Homo sapiens: one gene and its partners. The protein of the gene in region 3 purifies or fractionates together with the protein of the main gene of each other region. This does not show direct contact. Each region holds a gene or a part of one and is shown on either strand. Other genes may lie near its edges. The genes, in order: POM121, IGF2BP3, G3BP2 and NUP214.

Evidence for each region.
Region 1: the proteins of G3BP2 (region 3) and POM121 purify together in Homo sapiens (affinity purification with mass spectrometry; 3 studies listed by BioGRID and IntAct, with this or other methods). This does not show direct contact.
Region 2: the proteins of G3BP2 (region 3) and IGF2BP3 purify together in Homo sapiens (affinity purification with mass spectrometry; 3 studies listed by BioGRID and IntAct, with this or other methods). This does not show direct contact.
Region 4: the proteins of G3BP2 (region 3) and NUP214 purify together in Homo sapiens (affinity purification with mass spectrometry; 4 studies listed by BioGRID and IntAct, with this or other methods). This does not show direct contact.

What each region holds. Positions count from the first base shown.
Region 1 is NC_000007.14:72,941,723-72,948,946, forward strand, and holds the end of POM121 (nuclear envelope pore membrane protein POM 121), read left to right. Parts: intron 1-114; coding exon 115-1,800; intron 1,801-3,863; coding exon 3,864-3,986; intron 3,987-4,414; coding exon 4,415-4,512; 3' UTR 4,513-6,577; downstream 6,578-7,224. UniProt on the Homo sapiens protein: Essential component of the nuclear pore complex (NPC). The repeat-containing domain may be involved in anchoring components of the pore complex to the pore membrane. When overexpressed in cells induces the formation of cytoplasmic annulate lamellae (AL).
Region 2 is NC_000007.14:23,467,048-23,474,925, forward strand, and holds the start of IGF2BP3 (insulin-like growth factor 2 mRNA-binding protein 3), read right to left. Parts: upstream 3,445-7,878; 5' UTR 3,064-3,444; coding exon 2,889-3,063; intron 2,601-2,888; exon of another isoform or gene 2,529-2,600; coding exon of another isoform or gene 2,189-2,528; intron 1,496-2,188; coding exon 1,435-1,495; intron 1-1,434. UniProt on the Homo sapiens protein: RNA-binding factor that may recruit target transcripts to cytoplasmic protein-RNA complexes (mRNPs). This transcript 'caging' into mRNPs allows mRNA transport and transient storage.
Region 3 is NC_000004.12:75,670,071-75,678,317, reverse strand, and holds the start of G3BP2 (ras GTPase-activating protein-binding protein 2), read left to right. Parts: upstream 1-4,906; 5' UTR 4,907-5,110; intron 5,111-5,160; exon of another isoform or gene 5,161-5,299; intron 5,300-5,423; exon of another isoform or gene 5,424-5,505; intron 5,506-5,616; exon of another isoform or gene 5,617-5,812; intron 5,813-8,247.
Region 4 is NC_000009.12:131,128,173-131,135,691, forward strand, and holds part of NUP214 (nuclear pore complex protein Nup214), read left to right. Parts: intron 1-159; coding exon 160-311; intron 312-1,106; coding exon 1,107-1,305; intron 1,306-2,593; coding exon 2,594-2,664; intron 2,665-4,423; coding exon 4,424-4,487; intron 4,488-4,933; coding exon 4,934-5,037; intron 5,038-6,725; coding exon 6,726-6,832; intron 6,833-7,519. UniProt on the Homo sapiens protein: Part of the nuclear pore complex. Has a critical role in nucleocytoplasmic transport.

The DNA of each region.
Region 1 (7,224 bases), on a different chromosome or scaffold from region 3:
GACTGACTCTTGGATCCCAGGCTCTGTGGTAGGCGTGGGGAGGACACTGAAATACTGAATACCATCATCTTTGAAGTGTTTATTCCAATTTCACATTTTCTATTCTTCTTCCAGAATCTGCTGGAGCAGCAACCACTGAGGCCCTCTCACCTCCAAAGACACCCAGCCTCCTACCCCCGCTGGGTTTATCACAGTCAGGGCCGCCAGGGCTGCTCCCCAGCCCCTCCTTTGACTCCAAACCCCCGACCACTTTGCTGGGGCTGATCCCTGCTCCATCCATGGTACCAGCCACTGACACCAAGGCACCTCCAACCCTTCAGGCAGAGACGGCTACCAAACCCCAAGCCACATCTGCCCCGTCCCCCGCCCCCAAGCAAAGCTTCCTGTTTGGAACACAGAACACCTCACCTTCCAGCCCTGCCGCCCCTGCTGCATCTTCAGCACCTCCCATGTTCAAGCCCATTTTCACGGCTCCACCCAAGAGTGAGAAGGAAGGCCCCACACCGCCTGGCCCTTCAGTCACAGCCACAGCGCCCTCCAGCTCCTCCCTCCCCACGACCACCAGCACCACAGCCCCGACCTTCCAGCCTGTCTTTAGCAGCATGGGGCCACCTGCATCTGTGCCCTTGCCTGCTCCCTTCTTCAAGCAGACAACTACTCCCGCCACTGCTCCCACCACAACTGCCCCGCTCTTCACTGGCCTGGCCAGCGCCACCTCTGCTGTGGCTCCCATCACCTCTGCCAGTCCATCCACAGACTCTGCTTCGAAGCCTGCGTTTGGCTTTGGCATAAACAGTGTGAGCAGCAGCAGTGTGAGTACCACGACCAGCACCGCCACTGCCGCCTCACAGCCTTTCCTCTTCGGGGCGCCCCAGGCCTCTGCTGCCAGCTTCACCCCGGCCATGGGCTCCATATTCCAGTTTGGCAAACCTCCTGCCTTGCCCACAACCACCACAGTCACCACCTTCAGCCAGTCCCTGCACACTGCCGTGCCAACGGCCACCAGCAGCAGCGCTGCCGACTTTAGTGGTTTTGGCAGCACCCTCGCCACCTCCGCCCCGGCCACCAGCAGCCAGCCCACTCTGACGTTCAGTAACACGAGCACCCCCACGTTCAACATTCCCTTTGGCTCAAGCGCCAAGTCCCCGCTCCCATCATATCCGGGAGCCAACCCCCAGCCCGCATTTGGGGCCGCTGAGGGGCAGCCACCGGGGGCCGCCAAGCCGGCCCTTGCCCCCAGCTTTGGCAGCTCTTTCACTTTTGGAAACTCTGCAGCCCCGGCTGCTGCACCCACACCTGCACCTCCGTCCATGATCAAGGTCGTGCCTGCGTACGTGCCTACGCCCATCCATCCTATCTTTGGCGGTGCCACGCACTCGGCGTTTGGGTTGAAAGCCACGGCTTCGGCCTTCGGCGCTCCCGCCAGCTCACAGCCCGCCTTTGGCGGCTCCACTGCTGTCTTCTTCGGTGCAGCCACCAGCTCCGGCTTTGGAGCCACCACCCAGACCGCCAGCAGCGGGAGCAGCAGCTCGGTGTTTGGCAGCACAACACCATCACCCTTCACGTTTGGGGGTTCGGCAGCCCCCGCTGGCAGTGGGAGCTTTGGGATCAATGTGGCCACCCCAGGCTCCAGCACCACCACCGGAGCTTTCAGCTTTGGAGCAGGACAGAGTGGGAGCACAGCCACCTCCACCCCCTTCGCAGGGGGCTTAGGTCAGAACGCCCTGGGCACCACCGGCCAGAGCACACCGTTTGCCTTCAACGTGAGCAGCACAACTGAGAGCAAACCTGTGTTTGGAGGTAAGGAGGGGCGTGGACTTGGGCTACCGGGCCGGACACTGAAAAGCTGTGCCTGCGAAGCCTGTGGTCTCGGGGAGCTTATGCTGTGGCAGTGAAGAGACAGGCACTGAATATAGAACTCAGTGAGATGCCAGGGAACGATACATGTTTTGCTAACGTAGTAATGACTGGAGGAGCCATTGTGGATTTAACTGGTCAAAGGCCTTCTGAGTAGTTAACAATTGTAAGCTGAAGGTTGGGCGCAGTGGCTCACGCTTGTAATCCCAATATTTTGGGAGGCCAAGGAGGGTGCATCACTTGAGGCCAGGAGTTCAAGACTAGCCTGGACAACTTGGCGAAACCCTGTCTCTACTAAAAATACCAAAAAATTAGCCGGGCGTGGTGGTACCCACCTGTAATCCCAGCTACTCAGGAGGCTGAGGCACAAGAATGGTTTGAACCCAGGAGTTGGAGGTTGCAGTGAGCCAAGATCATGCCACTGTACTCCGGCCTGGGTGACAGAGCAAGACTCTGTCTCAAAAAACAAACCGTAAGCTGAATATGGGGGTGGGCACAGCACAAGTGGACATGCCTTTCAGGCCCAGGATGGCGCATGCAAAGGCCCAGAGGCAGAAACATGTTTGGTATGTTGAAGAGCAGAACAAAGACAAGCATGGCAGGAGGGCAGGAGCTAAAGCAGTGGTGTGGAAGGAGGCCAAGAGGCAAGGATTGTTTGTGGCCAGGGTTGGGTGTTTGGGTCTTAAGTGTTCAGGAAAACCATTGCAGAATCAGGCAGAAGGATGCAGTGATGGTTCCTCCCATGTGGAAGATGAATGTAGATCCCATGGCTTCTGTTTGCTTCGTGAAGTAGAGAAAATCTGGGAGAGAGAGGGTCAGGATAAAGTGTATAAAAAAAGGGGTCTTTTGAAATAGTCATTTTGGACAGTGGGGGAAAGGAACATCATATTAAAAAGTGTGATCAGTTTCCAGGCAGTTTGTGGGCTGGAAAATTGTGATTGTGAAGTTAAAGTGAGGCCAGTTAGCATGGCATGTGTTTCCCAGCGACACTGTGGGTGTAGACCTAAGGTCAGCGGACAGCTGGTGCCACCCGGCCATGGAGACCCCAGCAAGCACAGCAGGAGGGGCAGCGGGTCAGTGCCCCGATGCAGCTCAGGGGGTGCAGGAGTGGAGAGCGGGTGAAGTCAGCTGCAGGAGGGGTGGTGCCTACAGGAGATTCGGGAGCCGGAGCAGTTGTGGTGACAGTGTGGCTGCAGGAGTGGTGGCAGGGGTCGGGGAGAGGAGGTCATGGGGGTGGCAGGGTTGAGGGGCTGAGAGGACCATCAGTCAGCCTCACAGGGCGAAGTCACCGTGAGTGGTGATGGGAAGGAAGCCAGTGAGCCAAGGGTCCTCTGTGAATCAGGGAGTGACCTGGCAGTTGACAGGTGACATGAGGACATGGCAGATTAAAGTGATCTGAACTTGAGTTACGGTATTTAGGGAAGGAAGAGAAACAGTGTGGAAGCAGCGTGGGAGCACAGGGAGCTTCCTCTTGTCCGGGCCGGAGGCCAAGCCCTGAGAGCAGCCATCCCTGCAGAGGGGCTGCCAGAGAGGGCCTCGGGCAGGCAGCCAGAGCCAGTCAGGGCAAGGCCGGGGAAGGGAGGGGACCACGGGGCATCACAAAAGACGCGGGACGGACAAACCAGGCTTCAGAGGGGAGGGGACGGTGGCTGGGGGAAAAGGCCTGAACAGAGGAGGTAGCCAACCCAGGTACGCTAGGAGGCGGGGGCCCCAGAGTACTCCCCTCTGCAGCGATGGTCAGGAGGCCCACGAGGTGGCTGCGGGGCAGGGGGGCTTTTTCTCTGCCCTGGCGTGGCCATTAGCGGGTGGGAGAAGCAGGCTGAGCTGGGGCACCAGGCATGAAGACTCGGTTGTCTGGCTCAGCTGCTGATGGAGGAGTGCCCCAGAAGCAGAAGTGGGGCTGAGGGTCCCGTGGGAAGTGCCCTGCGGAGCACAGGCTCCTGCCCGGCTCCTCGCTTGCCTCTGCCCTCTGCTCACTGGCCAGCTCTCTGTTCTCTTCATTCCAGGCACCGCCACCCCCACCTTTGGTCTGAACACCCCTGCGCCTGGAGTGGGCACATCAGGCAGCAGCCTCTCCTTTGGGGCATCCTCAGCACCCGCCCAAGGCTTTGTTGGTGTTGCACCTTTCGGTAAGCAGCAAGCCACCCTGTGGCCCTGCTCATCTGTCTGAGGAGGGGTTGGGCGGGGTGGCAGGTTCCTGGTCCTCTGAGGCCCGGTGAAGATCAGGTTCAGCACAGGAAAGACATTTCGGGTTAGGAGTCCAGCACAACCCAGGGATGGGAGTTGGATGGCAGAGATCAGAGAGGAGCTGTCCGGGGTGGAAGTTTGCCTCCCATGGGAAGCCAGGTAAAAATGGATTCTTGGGCCTCGCTCTGAGACTCTCTGGGAGTTTGCATTTCAGGAGGCTTCTCCCGTACAGTGTTTCTGATGCAGCGGGGAAAGCCCTATTGAGGCACCCTGTGTTTTATTACTGGCCTGGCCTTCCAGAGATTTGGGCACCCAGAGTCAGAGTCTCAGGTAGCAGCTGCCCTGATGAGGTCTTGTTGAATCTTTCCAGGATCGGCGGCCCTTTCATTTTCCATTGGTGCGGGATCCAAGACCCCAGGGGCTCGACAGCGACTGCAGGCCCGAAGGCAGCACACCCGCAAAAAGTAGCCTTTGTCCCCTGTCCCTGTTCCCCCCACCCCTTCCCTAAATCTGGACCTTGGCACCTGCTAGGAAGAGCCTTGGACCCTTCCAGTTGCGTAAAGCAAACCTACCCCGGATCTCTGGCTTCAGCCGCCAGGGGGCAGTGGCAGCCCTGGGGCCCTTTCCCTTCTGGAGGAAGCACAAGCCTCAGGGAAGGGGAAGCAGGATGCGGAGGGCCAAAGCCCGGGACCTCTACTTGAACAGTTCTACTGGGGAGGCTGGAGAACTAAGGAAACACCTGTACATAGTGTCCGCTGCCCTGACTCCCGCTTAGCACACCCTTAGGCAGGCGCCCCTTCCACCTTTCCCCGAGACCGTCGTCGCTGGAGGGGGCAGGGTCCAGCCCGCCTGGATCGGTGGTGTGCACCTGATGGGATTTGGGAAATGGGCTATCCGTAAAGCTTTATCTTGCTTGGCTTAGCTGTGAGAAGTGGTTCTCTTCCTCTGGTCCCTTCTGGGGACTCTGTTTCCCCATTTCTTGCTGCTGTGTCCCTCACCAGTTCCTTGCAGGATTCCTTCGTTTTTAAATGCCCTTGAATCTAGCTTTGCCTTGGAGACCCCAGTGGGTGCTGCTCCTGCCGTTTTCTTCCTGCCAAGCCTGAATCAATGTTTCATCTCCAACCCTCTGCCAGTTTGGCCCCTCAGAGCTTGGTGGCTCAAGACTGTTAGCCTGGCAGAGCCAGGGGTGAAGGGAGAAGCTCTTGGAGCAGGCAGGATGCCCACCGCTGCTTCAGCTGCCTCCTCGCCCAGCTACCCTTTGGCCCCATTGGGCCCTCGTCTGCCTCTCCAGGATTGTATGTTTCAAGCCTTGTCCTGTGTTCCTTTGTCTGATGCTCTGTGTATTGCTCTTTGAATCGAGTTTGGAGGAAGAGTTGAGTTGTATGAGTGGCGGCATGTTGGTAGTGCCGGACTTCCTGTTTCAAGTTTTCTGGGGCCTCGCTAATTGAATGTGGAAAGTAGCACCACTTGACGGCTACAAGTGCCGACTCCTGAATTTTCCCATGGTGTTCTGACTTCAAGGGCTGGCAGCCAGGGAGAATGGGCCCAGGGGAAGCAAAGACCTCTTCCCTCTGCCGTTTCTGTCCCACTTAACTGACCTCACTGGAGGCTACATCACCCAAAGTAGATGTTAGAAAACCTAAATTAATGAACCATATTTTTAAAATCCTATTTTTCCCAAACAGGGCCCTCTGCAGCCCATCCTTTCCTTCCGTCCTTCTGAAACCACATACCCCAGGCCCAAGCGCCTTGCTGCCACGCCCAACCTCTTTGGGAGAAGTATGAATGCGTGTGTCTAAATTAAAAGAAAAAAATATTTAAACGTTTTTTAACAAAAATTTATTTTTGTATTTAAGCTAAATTGCCTTTTAAATTCCTTCAAGCTTGGTTCATTGAGGTGGTTAAGTATAAATGCTATTAACTAGGAATTAGCTGTATAGTTAAGTTATGCCTGTGCAAAGAAGAGGCTCAAATGCTGTCCCCGGCAGCTTTCCTGGGGGACTAGAGCTCCTTCTGGCCATGTTATATGAAATGTAATTCTTATTTTATAAATAATGTGATGTAAATGTAACTGGTGCCCCCTCCCCGATGTGACTGAGGGTGAGTGAGTGGTGGCGGGGCTGCTCCTTCCCACCCCTCAGAACAGCTCTGATCCTCGTTAATACCTGGCTGCGTGTGCAGCTGAGGAGGGAGTGAACCTCAAGCCTAAATACCTGTTAGGATTGGAGGGTCTGGGTGGGCCTGGGCCTAGCAATCAAGCTTCTACCTGTACCTTATGTAAGGTAGACCCTCCTAGTGTCAGTACCTGAGCTAGTTTACCTCAGTTCCGCAGGCAGGACAGCCGGTCCGGGAACCCTGAGTGAGAATGAGTGTGGATGTGTACAGTACACGCACTGGACGGCAGCGGGAGGCTGGGACTTTCCATTACAAATAGAGACTTCATTCCTGTTGAGTCTAGTTGGAATTTTTAGTATGAATGTGAGATTTTTCTCCTGCTTGTGACATTAAGAATAAAAAACTGTGATCTATCGTAGAGTACGTTCTGCATTTTATTTCTGCAGGCAACACTTTTGCTCACCAGCAAGAACACAGCCCGAGGAAGGGACCCAATAACCTTTCAAAACGCAAACTGCTGCCTGCGGTGAGGGCCCAGGGTCTTCCACGGAGAGGACAGGCATCTTCCTTTCCCACCAGGAAGGAGTGAGCCCGGAGCCTCTGCTATGTGCAAGGCGGTGTGCAAGCACCGGCTGCAGCTTTTTGCTCTCTTCTTTCTCTTTGGGGCTGGGCTGGGTGTGCGTTCTGGTGCTGATGCTTTGGCCTGTGAGGCTGAGCTAGAGAAATGTAGATGTTAGATGTGCCAGTACCATCCTGCGCCTCCCAAGCATGCCCCCACTCACTCACGTCGGCATCTCGACCCGTTCAATTACAGCAACGAAGAAGCCACCGCTAAGCGTGGTCTTGGGGGAAGCCCGGAGGCAGTGCTCGGCACCCGGGAACGTGCTCAGGCCTCGGTGGGGCCGGGCAGGCAGGGCGGGAGCTAGCCTGCAAGAGAAACAGCCCCAATGCTGGGTAAGAGAGCAGTTCACCCCATCCCCCCCTCCACGACCCTGGCGCACGCCCTGTACCTGAAGGCGCCCGGGTTCTGCTGCAGCGCATCTTGTACCATGTCTTCATTCTCCT
Region 2 (7,878 bases), on a different chromosome or scaffold from region 3:
TCGATTTTCAATTCTTGTTAAACCAAGCTCAATTTATATGAAAATCATGTGACCCCTACCAAAATTCCCAACTAGAACTAAATCTATCAGGTCACTCAAATCCCTTTCAATTATCTTAATGAAATTTAAGTATGAGAACAAGAAAAATCCAAACCAACTCATCCTTAAAAACAAGATTTGTGAAAATGCTTTGCCTGGGAAGAGAGCTGAAATCTACACAGGCATACAGATGAGATGTTTTGTAGCCATCTATTTCTGCACAGCACCAGAGAAATGCATAGCAAACCCTCCTGCTCTCCAGCACACACTCTCTCACCAATATCTAACCAGATACACGCAGCCCTGATTTAAATTAACTTTCAGCTTATTATTTGGCTCAGGTTGGGAGTTGGGGGGATGGGAGAGGGGCAGGCAGAAACCCTAACCCCACCATGCAAAATCCAGAAAGGCTTAGAGGCCCACCCCGGTGCGACTGGGAGGGAGCAGTGCCTTTCCAATTGCAGTTAGAGCCGGAATCTATGGTGTGAGTTGGCTGAAGGTTTTAAAAAACAAAACAAAACAAAAAAATAGAGCCGGAATCCGGCCTGCTCTAGCGAAAGGAAAGGAGTCTCCACTGCTCCATAAGGCTTCATAAGAAAAAGAAAAAGGGAAAGAGCCATGTCTCCAAAATGCTTCAGAGGCTAAAACAGTCTATAAACATTCTGTAAAGCGACATACTACACACATGATCTCGGAGACGAGAAATCCCCGTCCTTAAGTAGTACGAATCTTCCTGTCTTCATCTTTTGGTGGTTGTAAGCAAAAATGTACCCAGGAGGAGTGGGGTGGAAAGCGGGGAGACAAAGGTGCTGACTGCAGGAACCTGTAGAACTTCGGAGTGACTCAAAGGCACTTCTGGGCCAGAGAGGCCCCAGCGTTTACGCACGCGTTCCAATACCCCTGGCGAGCTCACAGGGCAGAGGCAAATTCCTCTCCACTCGGCCGCGCCCACGGCCTCCCAACCCCGGACAGAGAAGGAAAGGAGGGACCCCCGCGTGTCCGCAGCTGCTTTCGCCTCTCCTGCTCCTGGAGGGGTGGGGGAATCATCCGCTGCTTCCCAAGCCCTGCAAACCCCCCAAACTGCTTGTTGGGACCCATTTCCCGTAGGAGCAATTTGACCCGCTCGGACCGAGGACATTCAGCTGTGAGCTTTCGAGAGATTTTGTAACCAATAACCATAATCCCGCGGCAGAGGCCACAGAAAAGCTTTCAATTCCTGCCCAGCATCATCAACACACACACCCCCGCCATAAACTTAAAAGCAAGGATTAAAGACCGGAACACCACGCCACACGGCAGGGGGTAAGCACCAGAGGACAAGAAGTTCTCAGCTGAGTCTCTCCACCCAATAACGGAGTGAGAACAGAATCGGGGCAAACAGAAGCAGCAGCTCACCTTTGCCTTTTTGGGACCGAGTGCTCAACTTCTATGGGTTTCCCGTGCAGTTCTATTTTACCTGCGGACACACAAGAAGTGAGACGGTCGGCCGAGTTCAGCGGCTCTCCCTGCCCGAAGACCCGCACAGCCCAAGCGGCGACACAAATGGCCTCCTGAGGCCCTCGAAGGGCCCCCGAGGCCCGGACGCGGCTCCAGGCGGAGGGAGAAGCCGACCCCCTCGAGCGGCGTGGGCATTTAACTCGCAGATGGTTGGGGAGCAGGGTCCGCTGGCGGGCCCACTACTTGGGTATCAGTCCAGTCTCCAAGCCTCCCCCACCCACCCCTGGGGGCCACCAACACCACGAGGCCCGCAAGAGGGACGCGGCCCACCCTCTCACCGCCCTGGACACGCTCCACAGGGCAGACTCGGGGCAGGGGGCTCCCCTGGCTTTCTTCAGGAGGGGGCGCCCTGGCCCTGCCCTCTGCTTCAGCCCAGACCCGCCGGGAACACTCAGCGGTGGGCTTGAGGAAGACAGGGAGTGGCGAGAAAGGGTCGGGGACGGCAGGGGAGACCACGAACGGGAGAACTGGCAGAGGCGCAGCTCGGCACAGGCTGAACCAGGCGCGAAGGACGGCGAGGCGCCCGCACCACGTCTGAATTGATTAAAAGGGAAGCCGAAAGGCACGGGGCTCCCATGGGGACCCCAACGCAGCCTTCCCCCTGGGCGTCCTGCTCCGCCCGGCACCGTCCCTCGCCCTGGCGGAGCCATACCCGGAGGCCGCAGCCCCGCGCCAGGGCCCGGAGAGCGGCGGGCGGCCGGTGCGTGGCGGCGACTCCCTTCCAGGCGACCAGCCGCCCCCGCCCACCTGCCCCTATCGCTCGTCGGACCAGGGGAGGTGGAACGGGGAAACCGGGCACACACTCTCTCCTCCCACAGGGTGGGGAGGAAGCGCGGGGCCGCCTGTGCGAGGCACCAGCCTCGCGGTCTCACTCGGCAGCACGGTCGAGGCCACTTTCCGTTCTCCACGGCCGGGGGTTTCGGGGCGCAGCACAGACAGCGCCGTAAATAACGACCGAGGAAAGCAGGAAGGAACGAGGCACAGGCGGGCATTCTAGCTCGGCCCCCGAGGCCCAGCGTGCCGGGGCCTGGAGCACGCGCCTGGGCCCGGGCGGGGCGCCGGGGGAGCGCGCCTCCCCCAGCCCCGCGCCCCCCTTAGCCAGCGCCGGGGCTTTCTTGACAGCGCGTTCGCCCTCACCCAGCAAACCCCGGCCGGGGAAGCAGAGCCGCGGGCCGGAGTGGGAGCCGGAGCTGAGGAGAGCCCCGGCCCCCACGCGCGTGGGTGTGGGCGCTCAGGCCTCACCCCCGCTCCCCCAGCGCGCCGGGCCTGGGGCCCGCGGAGCCACCCGGTGGGCCTGGGCGGGCGGTGCAGGGCTGGGGCGAGAGCCCGGGTGGGGCCAGGCCCGGGCCCACCTGAAAGCGCCTCGATGGCCTTGAGGGCCCAGCTCTCGTCCGGGCAGTCCACGAACGCGTAGCCAGTCTTCACCAGGAAGGGTCCCGACACCGGGATCTTGGCGTCCTTGAAGATACTTTCTAGGTCCGAGGGGGCGGCGTTCTCGCTGAGGTTTCCGATATACAGTTTGTTCATTGTGAAGAGTGGTTGTTTAAAAAAAAATAACGAGAAAAAACGAAAAATTAAAACCACCCACGGTGATGGATGGATCCAGCTGGTTTTGTTCCCCTCGTCTTCTCGCCTTTAAAATACACAAACACAGTAAGAACCAAGCACAAGAACGAGGAGTGAAAAATCAGATCCGAGGCTTGTTTTTTCCTTGTCTAGATGTGTTTTAAAAGAGAAAGAAAAGAAAAAGCCTAGCTACAACCCAAACGCATCCACCAGTCTTCCTAAGTCTTAGGAGGAGGCGGGATTAGCAAGAGAAAGGAGGAGGAGGAGGGGAAAAAACTACTTTTTGTCTCTTCCTTCCCAACCCCTTTGGCTTCGGCCAGCGGACTGTGAAAATATCACACTACGTGAGGCAGGCGCCGCCTCCCCATAAAAAACCCAGAAGGGTGACTGGCAGGAGGGAGGGGAGAGGAGGAGGAGGAGGAGGGAGGAAGGCGCAGGAGGCGGAAAAAATCCGCTCCGAGTGTCCGGCTTTTTGAATGAGCCACGTGTTCAAACTACAAATCAACGTCTCACGTGAGGAATCCCAGAGCCTCAATTAGAGTGGGTTTCGGAGAAAAAAGCGAGCGAGAGGAAGAGGGGGAGGGGAAACGAGATTGGGAGAGGGACTCTGAGAAGGGGGAGGAGGAAGAAGGAAAATGCTAAAGGAACCGCAGCCGGCACCAAGCGGGGCGCTGACGGTCACAACTCGAGTTTGTAAAGGGTTATCTGGTCTGGGCGGATCCTGGGAGGGAGGGCTGGAATATTGATTTTTTTTTTTTTAATGAGGAAATGGGCAGAGGTACTAACAGGCAGTTCCTCAGCGCTAGTTACCGTAGTTTTAATCATTCGATTTTTCAAAATAGGTTATTAACAACAAAACCAGAGTCACAATCCCGAACTCGCCTGGTGGCTTTAATGGCATTAGAAGTGTAACCCCAGCAAAGCCGCAGGCACGTTTCTAAGGCTGGCATGGACGGAAATGCTGCGAGGAGGGGTGGGGGAGTGGGTGAGGGGGGCAGGGGGTGGGGGCAAGACAGGCGGGCGACGCGCCCCACCCCGTGCGCCCTTCTCGGGCCCTGGGCACCGCGCGAGTGGGGGCGGCCCGGCCCCGGAGTGGTGGGGGATGGGATCCCGCAGCGTCCTGGGCGGGTGTCTGGGCGACACCTCCTCCGCCTCCGCCTGCGCTCGCGGTGGCTCTCGGCTTCGCGTTTGCCATTGGTTGCGCGATTCAGAAAAGGCTCCAGGATAAATGAGGCCGGGGGCGGGCTTGGCCACTGGTGGGGGAGGGGAGTGCAGGGGCGGAGGTTTCTGGCTAGGGGCTGGGGTCGTCGGGGGCCTGGGCCGCTGGAGGAGAGAAGTCAAAGTGGGAAAAGTCGGTAAAGGGAAACCCTCTCTTCCTGTAGTTTTTAAAGGGGGAGGAGTGGAGTAGGCTGGTACTTTTATTTAAGTAATTTTAGTTGGAGAACTTGAGACTTAAAACTGGAAGACCGTCGTGCATTACCCCTAGGTGGTATTCGCATTTGAAAAATTGTTCGAGTCTCTTTCTGCCTCTTTTCTGCCTGGATTTGGCCATGAGAGCCATACATAATTTTCTCTATATGTAATGAGTACAATGGTGGTTGTCGGGGGAGGATTTGGGCCCGGTGGAGCCTTGTGGGCCAACAAAATGTGAACTGGAGACGAGCAATACGGAAACGAAGGCAGTGCTGGGGTTCTAGTGGAATCTCCAACTGTCGTTTAAAGATTGTGTACTCCACTCAAAGGTTTCATTTGCACCAGATACTTGTGTGTTTTTAACAGGTATATTTTTAACAGGTATTCTATTGAAAAGATAGAAAATTCTAATTTTTTAAGTGAAAGAAATTCTATATAACATGAAAATATAGACAAGAATCTTTAATGACTTGGTACTCTTACTGGTAGAAAAAAGGTATCCTGAATAGAGGAAATATTATGATTTACACTGGAAACATCTTCGGTAATTGATACAGCCTTGCTTCTCTGTCAAAACCGTTGTTAGCATTTTAAAATGTGTATTTTTCATTTAAAAGATGAATGGTAGACTTAAACATGGGAATTGTTGCATGATATAAAGAGTATTTACATTTTGTCTTTTAAAGGGAACTTACTTTGTAATTTTGTGTTAAGGAACCGGAAGGTGTCAGATCATCCATTTTAAATGCAACTGTTCTTTCTTACAGGTTTTTCTTTCCTGCCAAGCGAATCCAACATTTTAAACGTAAACACACTTTCACAATAATTTCATTCACGTTTAATTTAATAAAATGTTGTTACTTTATAAAATAGGGGGACAGACGTGTTTTTCTGTTACAGTATTTGTAACTGAATTAAGAGCTCAGCCTTGAAAGAACGTTTTGGTAAAATTTTTCTTTAAGTTTATGGTTAGGTTGAACTTTTTAAAAGCATTTTTTTCTTTTTTTAAAAATAACTTTAGTTCTAAAGAAGAAATGTATTCTTTCTTTTGGCCTCTGTGGTATGCAAAATGTAAATATCAAAAATTATGGATTTATTTTAAATGTACCTGTTGTAGAACAAAAGCCATTTGGAGAAATGTTCTACATTCATTCATTTGGTAATATTTGCACTTCTCAATACCACTGTAAATTTTACAACCTGTTGATCATTTAACACTTTTAGTAATTTTTCATAAAAACAAATTGTGTGTGTTCAGCTTGCTTCCAAAATCAATTCAACTATGGCTTCTGGGTTGACTGTATTTGCTCTTATTAAAACTGAGACCTAAGGAAATATCTACTTCTAAAGCATGGAATAAATTGTTTATTTTCCATAAATACTAGTCCATGCTTGTCTGGCACTATCAAACAAATCTAACAGCTGGAATTTAAAACAAGTGTGTGTTTTGATGAAATATGTTCCTGGGACTCCTGTTAACCTAATCTGTGTATTATTGTAACAAACTGGATAGTCCATCTAGGACCTTAAAAACATACATGAGTAATACAAGCTCAGACATCAAAGAGAGAGGTGGATACAGTCCACTCCACTTCCAGTCTTCCAAGCATTTAAGGGTTGAGTCAAAAGATCTTAGGTAGTTGTCTTGCACTAGCACTTCAAGTACAAAGATACCTTTGGTGAATTTTCAAGAATGAATATAAAATCAATTTAAGTTCCAGTTTTTTTTTTTTAATGACTCTCACACAAATCAACTGGTTATAGGCTACTTCAGCTTCTTCCTGAAGCAGTTGTAGCTCCTAATTAATGTGAACTCCACGAAGAAAGAACTCCCACCATTTTATGTGCTCTGGGATGCGGCTGAGTCTTTCCAATTGCAGTCTGTTTACTCTTTGGACAGCTGCATCTCCTCCTTATCTGCTGAACTGAGGACTGTACAAATGTTTCTTGTGGGTCAGTGTAATATTAAAGAATAGCTATGTTTAGAAGGCCAGTTACCGTTGCTGTACCCACACGTCAGGGGCAAAGGCTGAGTGGGCAGATGGGGGGCTGCCACCCCTCCTCACGCCCGGCTTGGGACCAGCCTGGAGTCTCAAGCCGAAACCCCTCACGCGGGTGGGCACACAATGCCCGGCGTGTCGCCTGGGCCTCCTCGGAGGTGCTTTAACAGGCTCTTGCGCTTTTGAACGGCCCTCCTGGACTCTGATCTGTTTAAACTAGAGGCGTTAATAAGTGATAACCTGGATCTGCCCTCCTTGGAAGCTGCCTGCCTATATTTTATTGTTTAAAATAAATAAAAATGGTGCCCCGGGAGAGAAGATGGGGTTGTTTCCTTTTTCCTCTGGCTCTGCCCCGAGAAAGAGGGCGGGATCCTCACGGCTCACAGTGGGGAGGGTCTTTCGTCGGCCGCCGGCTCGCCTCGGAGGGCCTGGACCACTGGACCGCCCTTCCCCGGGGCCCTGCCGCGGGACCGCGGGCTTCTGGCTCCTCCTGGGGCTGCGTCCGTATGCGCGGAGCGTGTGGCCGGGCCGTCGCCGCGCCACCCCACCTGAGTCCGCCGGCCAGCGCGGGGACGCACCGGGCAGCGTGTGTTTGGCGACCCTCCCGCACCTCTGGTCTCAGTTGCGTGTGTGCACGAGGGGTTCCATAGGGCCCAGGGATGCTTGGTACCCACGGGGGAGAATCCCTCGCCGAACCCTGCGGGTCTGCGGGGCGGGCCGCGAGACTGGCGCGCAAAAGCGGCTCCAAGGCGGGGCTCCCGCGCTCCCCGGGGCCGGCTTGCCGAGTCCAAGTTGAGCAACCGGCGTCGAGAGAGACACCGCCCCTGCTGCGGGCGGGGGCCTCTCCTCGCTTCCGATTGGCTGACGGGGGGAACCTATCGCCGTCGGCCGCCTCCGCCAGAGCGGTTTGCTGGTTTTCATTCATTGGCCCCGGAGCCGCCCCTGGATTTCCATCTTTTGTGGCGCGAAAATAACCCTTTGCTCCCTCGTTGGTTTTGTTGAGGTTGAGGGGTGGGACTGTGTTCCCCTCTGCTCGCTCTCGTTTTTCCTGCCCTTTAACAGCTCGCCCCCAGCCCCAACCCCCAAGGAAGAAAGAGGGAGGTAACGCTGAGGAAGGGTGGAAAGCAGTTCTGCGTCCGTGGGTGGAGCCCGCCCCTTGGCTGACCGCATGGTGCCCGCACGGTCCCTTCCCTTCCCCCAGCGTCCAGCGCCCGGAGGTTCTGGATTTGCGCCATGCTCAGCAGCTGGAGTCACATCTTCGTTTCCCTGCCCATTTCCAACATCTTAGAGTTGATGCGTCCTTTTTTACTTAAAACAACTACAACCAACCATGTTCTCAGGTACCAGAACTTTTCTGGGCTTC
Region 3 (8,247 bases):
ACACACACACACACACACACAAGCTAGGCACGGTAGTGCACACCTGTGGTCCCAGCTACTCAGGAGGCTGAGAAGTCGAGGCTGCAATGAGCTATGATCGCACCATTGCACTCCAGCCAGGTGACAGACAAAGCAAGAACCTGTCTCAAACAACAACAACAACAACAACAACAAAACCACCCTTCAACTGGGTAACTTATAAACAACAGAAACTTATTGCTTATAGTTCTAAAGGCTGAGTAGTTCAAGATCAAAGGGCCAACCCTAGTGAGGGCTTGCTCTGCTTCAAAGATGGTGCCTTCTTGCTGTGTTCTCACATGGTGAAAGGGGCAAAAGCACAAAAGAGACTAATGAACTCCCTCAATCCCCTTTTATGAGCACACGAATTCCATTCATGAAGGTGAGGCCCTCATGACCTAGTTGCCGCCTGAAGGTCCCACCCACCTTTTAATACTTTTGCATTGGAGATTAAGTTTCAACATGAATTTTGGAGGGGCACATACATTCAATCCACAGCATCATCCTTCCTAACTGAATTAGTAGTGGGGCCAAGACATTTGTTTTGCAAGCCTTAAAAGTTTAAAAACATGGTGAGTAAAGACACTTTCCAAGAAAAATGCGTTTCCCTTAAGGACTTGGATTTTACTCCCTTCCAATGCTTGGTCTTCATAAACCTTATTTATGTGGGGTGTGTGACCCCTAAACATGCATGTAGTCATCTCTTTTTTTTTTTATTTTTTATTTTTTGAGACAGAGTCTCGCTCTGTTGCCCAGGCTGGAGTGAAGTGGTGCGATCTCGGGTTACCACAACCTCCGCCTCCTGGGTTCAAGTGATTCTCCTGCCTCAGCCTCCCCAGTAGCTGGGACTACAGGTGCGCACCACCATGCCTGGCTAATTTTTGTATTTTTAGTAGAGACGGGGTTTCACTATGTTGGCCAGGCTGGTCTCGAACTCCTGACCTCGTGATCCACCCACCTGGGCCTCCCAAAGTGTTGGGGTTACAGGCGTGAACCACTGCGCCCAGCCGCATGTAGTCATCTCGTATACACCTACTTCATCAGCAAAAGTGGTGATAATGGACTTGGTTGATCTTTTAGTATTCAGTAAAGTTGAGAATGGTCAAATGAAAGGGTGTAGAGGAAAAGCTTTATAAATTCAAATGTCTTATCTTATTCAAATACTTATCTAAGTATTTTATGCTGAAGTTTATAATAAAAATCAGGAATCAGGTAATATAATTCTAGTAATTTTACTTTTAAAAATTTACCTGCTAATGGTGATTGGGTCTGATTCATTTACTTTTATTTTTCACAGTGTTTTGATAAAGGTTCACATTAAAGGCCTTGGGGTGGTAATGTGATGAGAATGTCAAAGGAAGAGCTGGCTGGGGTGGTGTGAGAAAACCAGTGGTAAGAAAAGAAATGGAAGTAATAGGTAAGGACTAGATCAGGTAGGCCTTGTAGGCCATGGTAAGGACCTGAGATTTTGTGTTGCCTTTTAAAGGTTTTGGGACCATCTCAATTATAACTATGAAAGATCTGGCTGCTGTGAGGGGAACAGACTGTAGTGGAATAAGAGTGGAAGCATTGAGGCCAAGTAGAAAGCTATTGCAATAGGCAATGGTGGCCTGGACTACTATAGCAGCAGTAACAGTGATGCAAAGTATTTAATCCAGAATAAATGTTGAAGGTAGAGGGAACAGAAATGTATTGACAATTCGGCGAAGTGGGTGGATCACTTGAGGTCAGGAGTTCGAGATCAACCTGGCCAACATGGTGAAACCTCGTCTCTACTAAAAATAGAAAAATTAGATGGGCGTGGTGGCACATGCCTGTAGTCCTAGCCACTTGGGAGGCCAAGGCAGGAGAATGGCTTGAACCTGGGAGGTGGAGGTTGCAGTCAGCCCAGATCATGCCATTGCACTCCAGCCTGGATGACAGAGCGAGACTCCATCTCAAAAAAAAAAAAAAAAAAAAAAAATTATTGGCAATTGGCTGTCAATAAATTGGTGTGAGAAAAAGAGGTTTTTGGCCTGAGCCACCGAATGAATACCGTTCACACTGGTCTCCCTGCCTAGTCTATAGGAGGTGGACATTGCTTCATGGAGGCTATGTTTGAGAGGCAGGGAGATTAGTTAGGAGGCCACTGCAGTCTTCCTGGGAAGATGAAGGGGCCTGAACCTGGGCAGGGGCTATTTGTGTAGAGATATGTTTATGAGGTAAAAATCGCCAGTTAGAATAGGTTAGAGATATTTACTTAACATTGAAGATCGCTGAATCTTTTTTCCCATTAACTCCACTTATTGGTGTCTACTCAAGAGCAGGGTTACCTGAGGGCTGTTTCTGTGTAGCTCTAGAGCTAAACTAAAAATGTTTCTTAAATTTTTAAAGGATGCGAGAGAGAGAGGAATATGCAACAGAAACCATACGTGGCGCTCAAAACCAAAAATATTTACTATCTAATCCTTCCCTTATCAAACCGTTTGCCCACCTCTGCCCTAGATCAGTGGTGTTTGTTTTTTTTGAGACGGAGTTTTCACTGTTGTCACCCAGGCTGGAGTGCAATAGCGCGATCTCAGCTCACCGCAACCTCCGCCTCCCAGGTTCAAGCGATTCTCCTGCCTCAGCCTCCCGAGTAGCTGGGATTACAGGCATGCGCCACCACGCCCGGCTAATTTTGTATTTTTAGTAGAGACGAGGTTTCTCCATGTTGGTCAGGCTGGTCTCAAACTCCTGACCTCAGGTGATCCGCCCCCCTCGGCCTTCCAAAGTGCTGGGATTACAGTCGTGAGCTGCCGCGCCCGGCCTATATCAGTGGTTTTTAAAGTGTGGCTCCTAGAGCAGCAGTAGCACCATCAGCTGAGAACTTGTTAGAAGTGCAAATTCTCGGGCCTCTGTTGAATCAGAAACTTAGGGAGTGGGGCCCAACTATCTGTTTTAACAAGCCCTACAGGTGATTTCGGTGCACATTAAGGTCTGAGAACCACTGCTCTAGAGAAAGTTCTGCACCTCTGCAGGATACATGGTGAAGAATATTTATAATAGCATTGCACGGAAGAGCTCCAAACCGGAAACACTTGAAGGTTAGTCAGCAGTAGGGCAGATAAGTGAATTGCGGCAATTAGTACAATGGGAGTATTCTATAGTTTGCCTGAGGGTATGGACTGTGGAGGCAGATTGCCTGTGTTTGAATCCCAGCTCCAGTGAATAGTAGCAGTGTAGTCCTGGGTAAGTTACTTGACCTCTCCAAGCCTGTTTTCTCATCTATAAAATGGGCATAAAAATAGCAACTACTGGCCGGGTGCGGTGGCTCACGCCTGTAATCCCAACACTTTAGGAGGCCAAGGCGGGCGGATCACGAGGTCAGGTGTGTTCGAGACCAGCCTGGCCAACATAGTGAAACCTCGTCTCTACTAAAAATATAAAAATTAGTTGGGTGTGGTGGCATGCGCCTGTAGTCCCAGCTACTAGGGAGCCTGAGGCAGGAGAACCGCTTGAACCCGGGAGGCGGAGGTTGCAGTGAGCCAAGACCGTGCCATTGCACTCCAGCCTGGGCGACACAGAGAGACTCCATCTTAAAAAAAAAAAAAAAAAAAAAATATATATATATATATATATATATGTACATACATATAGCAACTAGCTCATAGGGTTACTGTGAGGCTCAGAAGGCTGTATAATTACAAGAATGCCTGGTATATAAGCCCAGTATATTAAAGGACAGCCGGCATGTAATGTATTTTGATGCTTTAAGGAAAAACATCAGGTTGATTTCATTAAAGTGATGGTCTGCCCAAATATTTTGCATATAACAGTATCTTTAAGCAGTCTAAAGGTAAAGATATTGTAGACTTTGGAGGCCCTAATGTTGGCATTGCCTCTGCCAATATTTAAGGTATTTGACGTATTGTCTTAACATGCCAAATACCTTAAAATTGCCCTTACAGGATTGCGAAGAAAACTGATGAGATGTACATGCTTGCGTCCACCATGTTTAGTTCGTAAGCATTCATTAATGTATTTTTTCCTTTCCGTTTCTTTGAACACTTCCTCAGTCCTTCATTCCAAAATTCCTGTGCTATCTCGGTATTCTCTGAAAACACTGCCAGACCTAAGATGCAAAGTGGCTTCCTTGACTACAAGATTTGGCTTGGCTTTGTCCATGAAACAAGGTCACCAGTGTCTCACCCTGGGGGCAAGTCTGGGCTTAGAGCTAGAACAGGACTGTAATCCTTGTATTTCAGGCCTTCTTTTAGCTTTAGTATGTAAAATGCTTTAGTATCTACTGATATTTAGCCATGCCTAAATTCGTAACAAGGACACAAAGAAATAGTCTTTTCCCCCTCTGTAAAGCCCACGTCATGTTCTTCCTTTACTGCAGGGCCTCTTAATGGGGCTTAAAACCTAGGATGGGTTAAGTAAACAATGTAGGTGAGTTTAGTGTGCAAACAGCTGAAATCACCGGCTGCATTTTAAGCTCGTCTACAGCAGCAACCTGCAGACACCTATTCAGAGAGATTACTAAATTCCCTCCTTCCCATTAATAAAAAGGACCAGAATATCAGTCTACAAAAGACACTGCGTTGCTGCGAACCAGCTCTCGCTTGCGCGATCAGGAAGAAGGGCGGCAAGGCTGGAGCCTCGGGACCGGAGAAAGGCAGCCTGCTTGTGACGTCAAATCAGCGGACTCTTATCTTGGCTTTAGGCCGGTTCCGGTTCCCCGGCTTTCCGGGCGCGAGCGTGTGCGAGCGCGGCAGCGTACTGCGCGTGCTCCGCAGAGGGACACGGGAAGGTTGGGTCCGGCTCTGGAGGAGATGCGTGATTGGCTGACGCTGTGCTCGGGGGTTCCCTGGCCCTTTCGGCAGGGGTAAAACAATAAGAGGGGGCGGTGGCAAAGGGGGCGGGACGTCCGTGGTCCTTGTCGCACGTCGCAGCGCCTGGCGCCCGGGAAGAGGTGGTTGTGAGGCAGACGAACTCGCGGCTCTCCGGCTTCCGAGGCTTCCGAGTTGTCGGAGGAAGGGGGCGGCGAGCAATAAGAACCCGCCGCACCCGGTCCTCAGCGACTCTTCTGACCTCCGCGCGACGTACCCGCCGCCGCCGTTGGCTGGAGGTGTGTACGGGCGCCGGGAGGGGAGGTCGGTGTGGTGGTCGGAAAGGGACATTCCATTCGCGCTCCGCGGCGCGAGGCAATCGTCCGGTGTGTGAGCCCGGGAGCCGGAGGTGTAGCGGCAGAGACATTGTTCTTGCCGGCTCCCTACGGTGCCGTGTGTGCGTGAGAGAAGACCAGTCTTTCCTCTAGGTGAGGGGTGGGAGGCCGCCTGGGAAGGGAGGTGACCCGCGAGCGTCTTGCGGGCAGAGGGCTCCGAGTGCACAGGTGGGGTTGAGGTTTATTGGGGATGAGGTGGCGAAGTGGGGGGGGAGGCACGCAGCAGCTCCCGAAGGCGCGCTGATGGAAGCTTAATACAGGAAGTGTGGGAGCAGGCTTTCTGGAGGGGATGTTTTAGGGTGGGTAGCCCACCGTTCCTGTTTCCGAATCGTTTTCGGCTCTTGTACCTTGTTCCTTCGGAGCGGAGAGGCCGTCGCCACCCCGCCCGTGGGGGGAGGGGAAAAGAGGTTGTGTCGACGGAGGCAGAAGCGACGCAGATGCGAAAGTGGCGGCCTCCGGGCACCATTTCTGTGCACGGAAACAGAATCCGGGTTTGAAGGCAGCCGCCGCTTCGCTTACCCAGTACCTAGTGTTCCGTCGTGTTTGACCAACCCCCCTCTCCCTGCCACCGCGGGTTTAATCCGAACGTGTTCGGATACTGGAACTGTAACGTGCGCCTTCTTCGTCCCCCTCTTATGCAGACGATCCCTTATTGACTCGGGAATGGCTTTTGGGGGATGGGTTCCCGCTTTTGTTGGGATGGGGGGACAGAAAGGAACAGAAGCTTCCCTAGATTGTGTTGATTTTGTTAGTGGAATCTGATAGAATTTTTCCTGCGTCTCTAAAAGCAGATTTCTTAAGATGGCCCTTTGCCGCTTTGGGGCGAATATAGATTTTCGTCTATAATTTCCTGCATAGATCAGCTTTTTTCCCCAAGACATACTTAATGTTCTAACGGATTTGGGGGGTGGGAGGAGAGTGCCTTTTCCTTCATAACAACAACAAAAAAAAGGCACTTGCACTTTTAGCTGGAATAGTAAAGTCCTGTTCTCCCTGTATGATTGTTGTGGGATATTAACTTGGATTAAGATACTGTGGTTTTAGGTTCAAGGCTCTGTACCTTGTTCTGGTCTTTCAAACGTTAGTGTTGCAGGTACCTGGATCTAGGAAACATTAACTGTCGTTAAGAGAGCCCCGGTGTACTAGAGTGGGAGATGATGGCAATTTTTCTCTAGCTCCATATTTGGCAGTTAATATAGCCTTAGGCATGTGAACCAAGTTTCTAAGTAAACTTTTGGCCCTGTTAGCATCCAGTGGTCTTTTTGATAATCCAAGATTCCTGGTCTTAGGAGATAAACGGTACGATGAGTTTGAACCTCAGGATTGAATTATCCTTTCTTTGGCAGTAACATTTTTCTTAAATGTTTAAGATTACTCTTATGGGCCTTTATGTTATGATTTAATCTTTACAAACTAATTCTGAAAAGCAGTCAAGGAATTGTAGGAATAATAAGGACCTAGAATGAATTTCTTACTAAGAGCTGTCATAGTTCAGATTGATATTCAGGGTCGAAATATTAGTAATAGTGAAAAAACATCAAGAGTGAACCAGAATGCTTGTGGGATGGATGGGGATAAAAATTAGAAGGTAAAGAAGAAAACACATTATTTGACCATTTCGTAGAGTAACTAACTTAACTGTTCAGTTAGCAGCTGAGCAGTTGATTTGTCAGCAGGCAACTCCTGGTTTGAAGAAAGTGTTGGCACTGTGTCTTTAGATTCTGAAAACTTCCCTCCTTATCCTGCAAAATTATCGCTGTTTATTACGCATAATTAGGATTGAACATTTTCCCCCTAGATTGCTTTAAAAAGACTTTCCACATATTTTGAGTGAATATGGAGACAGTGAATGACTCCTTTTCAATGTTGATTTTGAAAGGCACAAACTAAAGTGTTGCGTCTGAACTTAAATTCAGTAGAATTTAATGGACAAACATGACCTAGTTACTCTCCACTGGTAGACACTTGTTTTATATCCGATAGAATAAATTGGTCCACCCACCTTCAGGAAGGTCCTGGCCTACCTTCAGAAGCAATAGAATTAGTTTCTTGACTGTCGTGTTTCTGCTTACTTTTATCTGCTAATTTCCAAGTATTTTACCCTATCTTGAAACCATAGGTATATTGAAAATTATTCTTGGATTTTCTGTTGCTGTCCTGCTGTATTCCTTTGCTTTTCACTCTTCTCAACAGTTTCACATAAGCTAACAATTGCTTGTTTAAAATTAATTTTTTGTATTGTTGGAAGAGCTGGCTGCTCTTCCAAAGCGGTTGTTCCTAACCAAAGTGTAATGAAAACATCAGTTGAGTCAGGAGTCAGGAGACCTGATTTCAAATCCTCTTTCTTTTTACTGTAACTGAGGAACCCCAAACACCTTTCCTTAGGCTCTCTAAACATCCTTTTCTGTAAATGAAGATAATGCCCTATCTATTTTAAAGACAAAAGAAAATAGTAGGTTACTTGTTAAACTTTAAAACATAGTATAAATACATGCTTTATTTTTGTGGACAGCAAGCATTTCCATTTCTTACTGCTTGGTCACTTTTAATAGCTTCTGAATTTTAAAACTAGCCTCCCTCAACTTCTGAGAAGGACAGAAAACAAAAACACCTTTTGGAGCCTGAATAAGAGATTTAATCCATAACTTACTTTTATTATTTATTTGTACCACTATGATTCTTAGATCTTCTTTGTGAAGCTTTCATTCAATGGTGTACCACAAAAGATTGAAGGTCATTTCTTTAAAAAGGTATAGTGTTCCTTAGATTGTTTAAGTTACTTCAAACAAAAACCATCTGGAATTTCAGAAAGTTCCAGTATTAATATGCATTTAGCTGTTGGAAATGGATATAGTCCATGGTTCAATTAAAATAAATAAACCTGACTAGTTTGAGCCCAGCTATGAGTGAGGGACTCCAGAGGGGAAAGGGGTAAGTATCCTATAGTGGAGATAAGCTGTGTCTTAGCACCCACATAACCTTTGGTAACAGTATCTGGTAAAGAGAACTGCCTCCTATTACTAGAGGTCTTATTCTTTTTA
Region 4 (7,519 bases), on a different chromosome or scaffold from region 3:
ATATCTTTAAGAAAGTTAAGATTTATCTGTATAACTAGGTATTGGGGTGTATGTGTGTTTATGTAGATGCAAAAATTTTTTCACATCGAACTGGATAGAGGTTGTGGCTTTATGCTTAGAACATACCGTTTTCTGCTTTGTATTTTTTTGTTTTCATAGTTGATAAAGTCCAAGGCTTGCTAGTTCCTATGAAATTCCCAATCCATCACCTGGCCTTGAGCTGTGATAACCTCACACTCTCTGCGTGCATGATGTCCAGTGAATATGGTTCCATTATTGCTTTTTTTGATGTTCGCACATTCTCAAATGAGGTAAGCTACTGTTATACTGTGATGTCAACATGAGAACCCTAAGCAGATTTCCTTGTATTGAATTACAACTTGGAAGCTTCATAGGTTAACCCTTGAAGTTTCTCTCTAGATTAAAATATGGGTTAAAAAAAAATCCTTAATTATAGAATCATAGATCTTTGAGACAGAAGGGACTTCAAGAAATTCTTTCATAACGCCATCTGCCCTAAGTTGTTATCAGGAGGCTTAGGTGACTTGCCCAAAGTCATAGATGAATACATAATGTCAAAAGTTCCTACATTTTGGATGTTCTTCCATTCCAAGCAGTTTAAGAATGATAATAATAGTGAGTGTTTATACTGACTGTGTGTGTTAGACTCTGTACTAAGTGCTTTATATGCCTTGTCCCTCGTTCATGCCTACCACAGCCTTATGTAGTAGGTACTATTATCTTCATTTTATAGGTAGAGAAACAGGCTCAGAGTTTAAGTAACTGTCCAAGGTCCCAACATTATTAAGAAGCAGAGCCAAGATTTTAATCTATTGTCTGCTATTTATTGGTTATTTTGCAATTGTGCATTCCCCTTCTGAGAGTCCCCCTAAGCATGTTAGAATAATTGATTGCCATTTTCAAAGTTGTGTTGAAATTGTCTATAGCAAATAGATTGATGCATAAAACAATCTTTTTTTATGGTTATGGAGAAAAATAAACTGATTTGAGATACCTTGTGTATTCAGTAATTTCCATTGAATATTAAATGTTTCTGCATTTACTATTTGTTAACTTATTTCACTTTTGCATATTTGTTTTAAAAGGCTAAACAGCAAAAACGCCCATTTGCCTATCATAAGCTTTTGAAAGATGCAGGAGGCATGGTGATTGATATGAAGTGGAACCCCACTGTCCCCTCCATGGTGGCAGTTTGTCTGGCTGATGGTAGTATTGCTGTCCTGCAAGTCACGGAAACAGTGAAAGTATGTGCAACTCTTCCTTCCACGGTAGCAGTAACCTCTGGTGAGTAATAAAGGCTTTCACACTGTAGCATACAATCATGGTCATCTACTTAAGAATTGATTTCTAGAAGTGAAAGTGGATAGCTTTTTGTGTTTTGGTTTTTTTTTTCATGACGAGGGAGGTTAAGGATGGAAGGTATTCTTTTTTGAGACAGTCTCACTGTGTCGCCCAGGCTGGAGTACAGTGGCATCATCTCAGCCACTGCAACCTCCACCTCCTGGGTTCAAGCAATTCTCGTGCCTCGGCCACCCAAATAGCTGGGATTATAGACATGCGCCACCATGCCCAGCTAATTTTTGTATTTTTTGTAGAGACAAGGTTTCACCATGTTGGCCAGGCTGGTCTTGAACTCCTGACCTCAAGTGATCTGCCCTCCTCCACCCCGCATATGCTAGGATTACAGGTGTGAGGCACTGTGCCCGGCTGAGAGTATTCTTTATACCCATAGTTAATGTCCTTGAAGCCAAACAGCATACATAATTTAACCTGAATGTACTTGGGATTTCTGGAGAAATATTTTGGTACAGCTGGTTTAGAAGTGTTTTTTGGGAATAATTGTTTCTGGATCTGTAACGGTGGTACTCTGAAAGTCATTTGTACCTTTGGGCGGAAAAGCATTTTAAATATTAAATGGGAGCAGGAGAATGATTTCTGGTTTTGTTTTTTTTTTTTTGTTTTTTTTTTGAGACAGAGTCTTGCTCTGTCGCCCAGGCTGGAGTGCAGTGGCGCGATCTCAGCTCACTGCAACCTCCACCTGCTGGGTTCAAGCAATTCTCTTGCCTCAGACTCCAGAGTAGTTGGGATTACAGGTGCCTGCCACCATGCCCAGCTAATTTTTGTATATTTTAGTAGAGACGGGGTTTCACCATGTTGGCCAGGCTGGTCTTGAACTTCTGACCTCAAGTGATCCGTCCGTCTCATCCTCCCAAAGTGCTGGGATTACAGGCATGAGCCACTGTGCCCGGCCAGTGATTTCTTGGTATTTGGAAACCTTCTCTGTTCTCCTTGTCTTATGTAAAGACTACAGAGTTTTCTGTATTTTGCAGCTTTCTGGGCAGTAATCTATTGAAAAAGCATTTTTAGCTTTCAATTCAATAGCCCAGTGATAAATCAATTGGCTTATATCGTTAAAATGATTTTACTTTTTTCCACTTTGCCTGATAGAGATGATCCTACAATCTTCCATGGACTGACAGAGGAATGAGAATTGATAATTAGCTGTGTGTGATAGATCTTATTGGTTTGCTCCATTTTCTTGTTTTCATTTGGTAATACTGTCTTTGCTCAGTGTGCTGGAGCCCCAAAGGAAAGCAGCTGGCAGTGGGAAAACAGAATGGAACTGTGGTCCAGTATCTTCCTGTAAGTTCTTATCTTGAACTTCAGAATTTTTCTTAAGTTGCCCACTTTTTTGGGGGTGGTTTGGGAGTATCTTTCTTGTTTTTCCTATTAAAAAGTAATTTATACTCATTGTAACAAATCCATCAGTGAATGAAGAGTGGAACTCTTCCCTTTCCCATAGTCCTTCTTCCAGAGGCACCCACTATGTTGTGTTGAGTAGATAGCCTTCCATACTTTTCTGGATGTTATACAAATAGTCTATGGGTAGCTGCTTTTTTTTTGTTGTTGTTTTTATGTAAAATGTGATCATACGCTATGCGCTGTTCCCCACCTTTTTCAGTCCATTCCATAAAAACAGCTCAAGGGAAAAGAGTTAGTGAAAAAACTATGATGATAATGCAGAATCACTCTGGGTTAAAGCACAGTATTTGTCTTTTAACTGAGTCTGTCTTTAAAGGTCTGTTTGTCTAACTATGGGCACCAAAGAAAATGGATACTCTTGTTGCATGTGCACTCTGTCATCCTCCCTGTGAATTTCTTGAAATAATGTTCACAAATATCCTTCAATATCAATTGAGTTGCAAGGAACCCCCATATGTCTATTGAGCCTGGACACGAAGGAGGGATTCACAGGTGGTGCTAAGGCCTTTCTTGTGCCTTCCTCCTCAAGACTGTTCTCTGGCGAGGAGGGGAGCAGAGTGGTGAATGTAGGTGGTATAGGTTTAAGGTTAAGGTTATGTTTCTTATTTGTTATTACCAAAAGTTACCTGAAATTTGGTACATAATCTTTTAGGACACTAACCTGTAAAAAGATAATGCAATTTTTTAAATTTTCTTGCTTTGCTGTTTGCCTTAATTTTTTATTTATTTATTATTATTTTTTTTTGAGAGATGGTCTTGCTCTGTTGCCCAGGCTGGGGTGCAATGGTGTGATAACGTAATGGTTCACTGCAGCCTCAGCCTCCTGGGCTCAGGTGATCCTTCCACTTCAGCCTCCCGGGTAGCTGAGACTACAGGCACTTGCCACCATGCACAGCTAATTTTTGTATTTTTTGTAGAGATAGGGTTTTGCCATGTTGCCCAGGCTGGTCTCAAACTCCTGGGCTCAAGCAGTGTGCCCACCTTGGCCTTCCAAAGTGCTGGGATTACAGACATGAGCCACCTCGCCCAGCCTTATTCCACTATTGATGATTGTCTGCATCAGTGCTAGTGGCGTTGCTGCTGCAAATGGTGTTGCATTGACTACTCTCATTACCTATATCTGAACATGTTCATGCGTTCATGCGTTTCTTTTCTTTTCTTTCTTTTTTTTTTTTTTTTGGAGACCAAGTTTTGCTTTTGTCACCCAGGCTGGAGTGCAATGACGTGATTTCAGCTCACCGCAACCTATGCCTCCTGGGTTCAAGCAGTTCTCCTGCCTCAGCCTCCCGAGTAGCTGGGATTACGGCACCCGCCACCACACCCAGCTATGTATTTTTAGTAGAGACGGGGTTTCGCCATGTTGGCCAGGCTAGTCTCGAACTCCTGACCTCAGGTGATCCACCTGCCTCGGCCTCCCAAAGTGTTGAGATTACAGGCATGAGTCACCACACCCAGCCACGTTCATGGGTTTCTGTAGGATGAAGTCCTGGAAGTAGATAGCACTATTCTGTTTCTTCAGTCTCTCCCGGCCAAGGAGATGGAACAGGTAGCATCTAAGGAATAGATTAGATTTGACAGTTTGATTGGTTTAGGATTTGTTTCATTTGATACTTTATTTTCCCCTCCAAATCTCTTTCAGACTTTGCAGGAAAAAAAAGTCATTCCTTGTCCTCCGTTTTATGAGTCAGATCATCCTGTCAGAGGTAACAACTGCTTTTCTTATTGGGCTGACCTCTAATGACATGTTATGTATATTACAGAAATTCAAAATCATGTAATGTACCTGCTCAGTGAGGTATTGGTGTTTGCTTTATGAATAATGTCACTATTTCAAACAGCTAATTAAGTCAGTGTAAATTATGGCCCTCTGGGTGACATCTGTGTTTCACGATAAATGACATGAAATGGATCCCGACTTTTTATTACAATTCTTCATAATTTGCCCTGATTATAATCCAGCAGAAAAATTACCATTTGGGGATGAGTTTGGGCTTCTTGGGTCATTGTACCTGTGCATTATATTTAGTCAATGAAATCAGGGCCTTTGATTTTTTTTTTATCCATAGTGGCTATTCCAAACATAAGCTGCTTTTTCTTGTATCTGGTTGCTGTCATTTTTATGAGCTACTGATTAAGATGTGTCTTTCAGTTCTGGATGTGCTGTGGATTGGTACCTACGTCTTCGCCATAGTGTATGCTGCTGCAGATGGGACCCTGGAAACGTCTCCAGATGTGGTGATGGCTCTACTACCGGTATGCCTGTGGAAGAAATTTCATTGTTTGAGAATTAGAGAAGTCTTCTAATAAAGCTGGAGGCTTTGATTTCAAGGGGTTTTTTTGTGTTTGTGTTTTTTTTTTTTTTTTTTGAGACAAGATCTCACTCTGTCGCCCAGGCTAGAGTGCAGTGATGCGATCTCACCTCACTGAAGCCTGGACCTCCTGGACTCAAGTGATCCTCCCACCTTAGCCTTCTGAGTAGCTGGTACTACAGGTGCACACCACTATGCCTGGCTAATTTTTTTTTTTTGGTAGAGATGGAGTTTCACCATGTTGCCCAGGCTGGTCTTGAACTCCTGAGCTCAAGTGATCTGCCCACCTAGGCTTCTCAAAGTGCTGGGATTACAGGTGTGCGTCACCGCACCTGGCCTGATTTCAGGTTCTTTTACTTACTGGCAGTGATTATGCAACTTCAGGTATAAGGTTTCCATGCTGCACCATGGGCCAGGGGTCTAAAATTGGAGTGTCCACAGCATGTTCTACTGTTATGAGGTTAAAAAAAAAATGATTTTGCTTAAGCTATAAACTATGAGTCTTGGTTAACTCGATAAATTTTAGAAAAGCAAGACAGTATCTTGATTTTTAAAATTATTTCATTTGCTCTCGAATATTTAATGCCAACAGTGTGCTAGGCACTGCTTTAAAGCTGAGTATATAGCAGTGATCAAGGTGATGGGCTTGCTTTTATGGTTTTAAGTTTGTTGTTGTTGTTAATTTTTATTTATTTTTTAGAGACAGAATCTCACTCTGTTGCCCAGGCTGGCATGTAGTGGTGCGATCACAGCTCACTACAGCCTCAAATTCTTGGGCTTAAGCCATCCTCCTGCCTCAGCCTCCCGAGTAGTTGGGACCACAGGCATGCACCAACACAGCCAGCTGTTTTTAAATTTTTCGCAGAGGTAGGGTCTTGCTTTGTTGCCCACGCTGGTCTCGGACTCCTGGCTTTAAGCAGTTCTCCCGCCTCATCTCTCAGAGCACTAGGATTACAGGTTTGAGCCACCACACCTGGCTGGTCTTACATTTTAATGGGATAGTCAATACTAAATGTGAGATCAAGGACTGATAAGAGTGATGGAGAAAATAAAGCCGTGTTAGGGATAGATGATGACTGGTATGTGTTTGAGATTGTGTGTCAAGGGAGGCCAATTTGATACTTGAAAAAGATGTCTTGTTTTTAACTCTTTTGGATTTCTAATAAGGTTGAGTTTTTGAAATATGTTTATCTAGATGCCTTATTTTAAGATTAGAGGTTTTTTCTATTCTAGGGGATAATATTAACACTAGTATTTATTAACTGCTACTTATGTTTCATGTACTGGGCTGGAAGTTTTGTATGTATCATTTCATTTTACACTTTACAGTAGCCTCTGAAGTAGGCTTAGTAGGTCTAGTATACACATGAGAACACTAAGTATCAGGAAGGTTGAAAAATCTGCATGTCTCGTGGGCAGAAAGTGGCAGAACAGAGTTTAAATGCAGTTCGGTTGATGGCCAATGTTTGTACTCCTTGTACTAAGTGCTGCCTTTATACCATGTCCGTATATCTGGACTTTGAGTAAATATTCTCATATAACTTTAAATGATTTATTATTTGAGATTCTTTTGCTGTGGGATCTGAGAAAAATTGCACATGAGAATTTTTTTTCTTGCTTTGTTCATTGTAGAAAAAAGAAGAAAAGCACCCAGAGATATTTGTGAACTTTATGGAGCCCTGTTATGGCAGCTGCACGGAGAGACAGCATCATTACTACCTCAGTTACATTGAGGAATGGTGAGCAGAGAGTCTGGACAGGGCATTCCTGCTCTCACTGGAAGATCACACCTGAGTCACCTTGTCCCATGTTGAAATCTTTTCTGATTGATTGATTGATGGATTGGCAGGGTCTCACTCCATTACCCAGGCTGGAGTGCAGTGGCACGATTGTAGCTCACAGAAGCCTGGAACTCCCAGGCTCAAGTGATCCTTCCACCTCAGCCTCCCAGATGGGACTACAAGCACATGCCACCACACCTGGCTTATTTTTAAATAAGTTTTTTGGTTTTTGTTTTTTGTTTTTAGAGATGGGATCTTGCTATGTTGCTCAGACTGGCTTCCCAAAGTACTGAGATTACAGGTGTGAGCTACCGCACCCAGCCTGAAATCTTTTCCATTACAGAGGAAAATGGAGGCTGAGATGCCTTGAACATATTTTCAGCTGATTCTTGATAATGTCTTTCTATTATTTCTGTTTCCCCAATCTTGAATTATTTATCTTAAATACATACTAATTTCAAAAATCTAATTTTCTCAATAACCCCTAGTGATGACTTACGAAAATATTGATATTCAAGGAATATATTAAAAGTTTCCTGAGAGCAGAGTTGCCCTTTGGAATGGAGATTACTCAAAGCAAAGCTTCCATCCCTCTAGCTACATTATTCTGCCTTTGGATGGCATATTGATTGTGAACTGTGACTT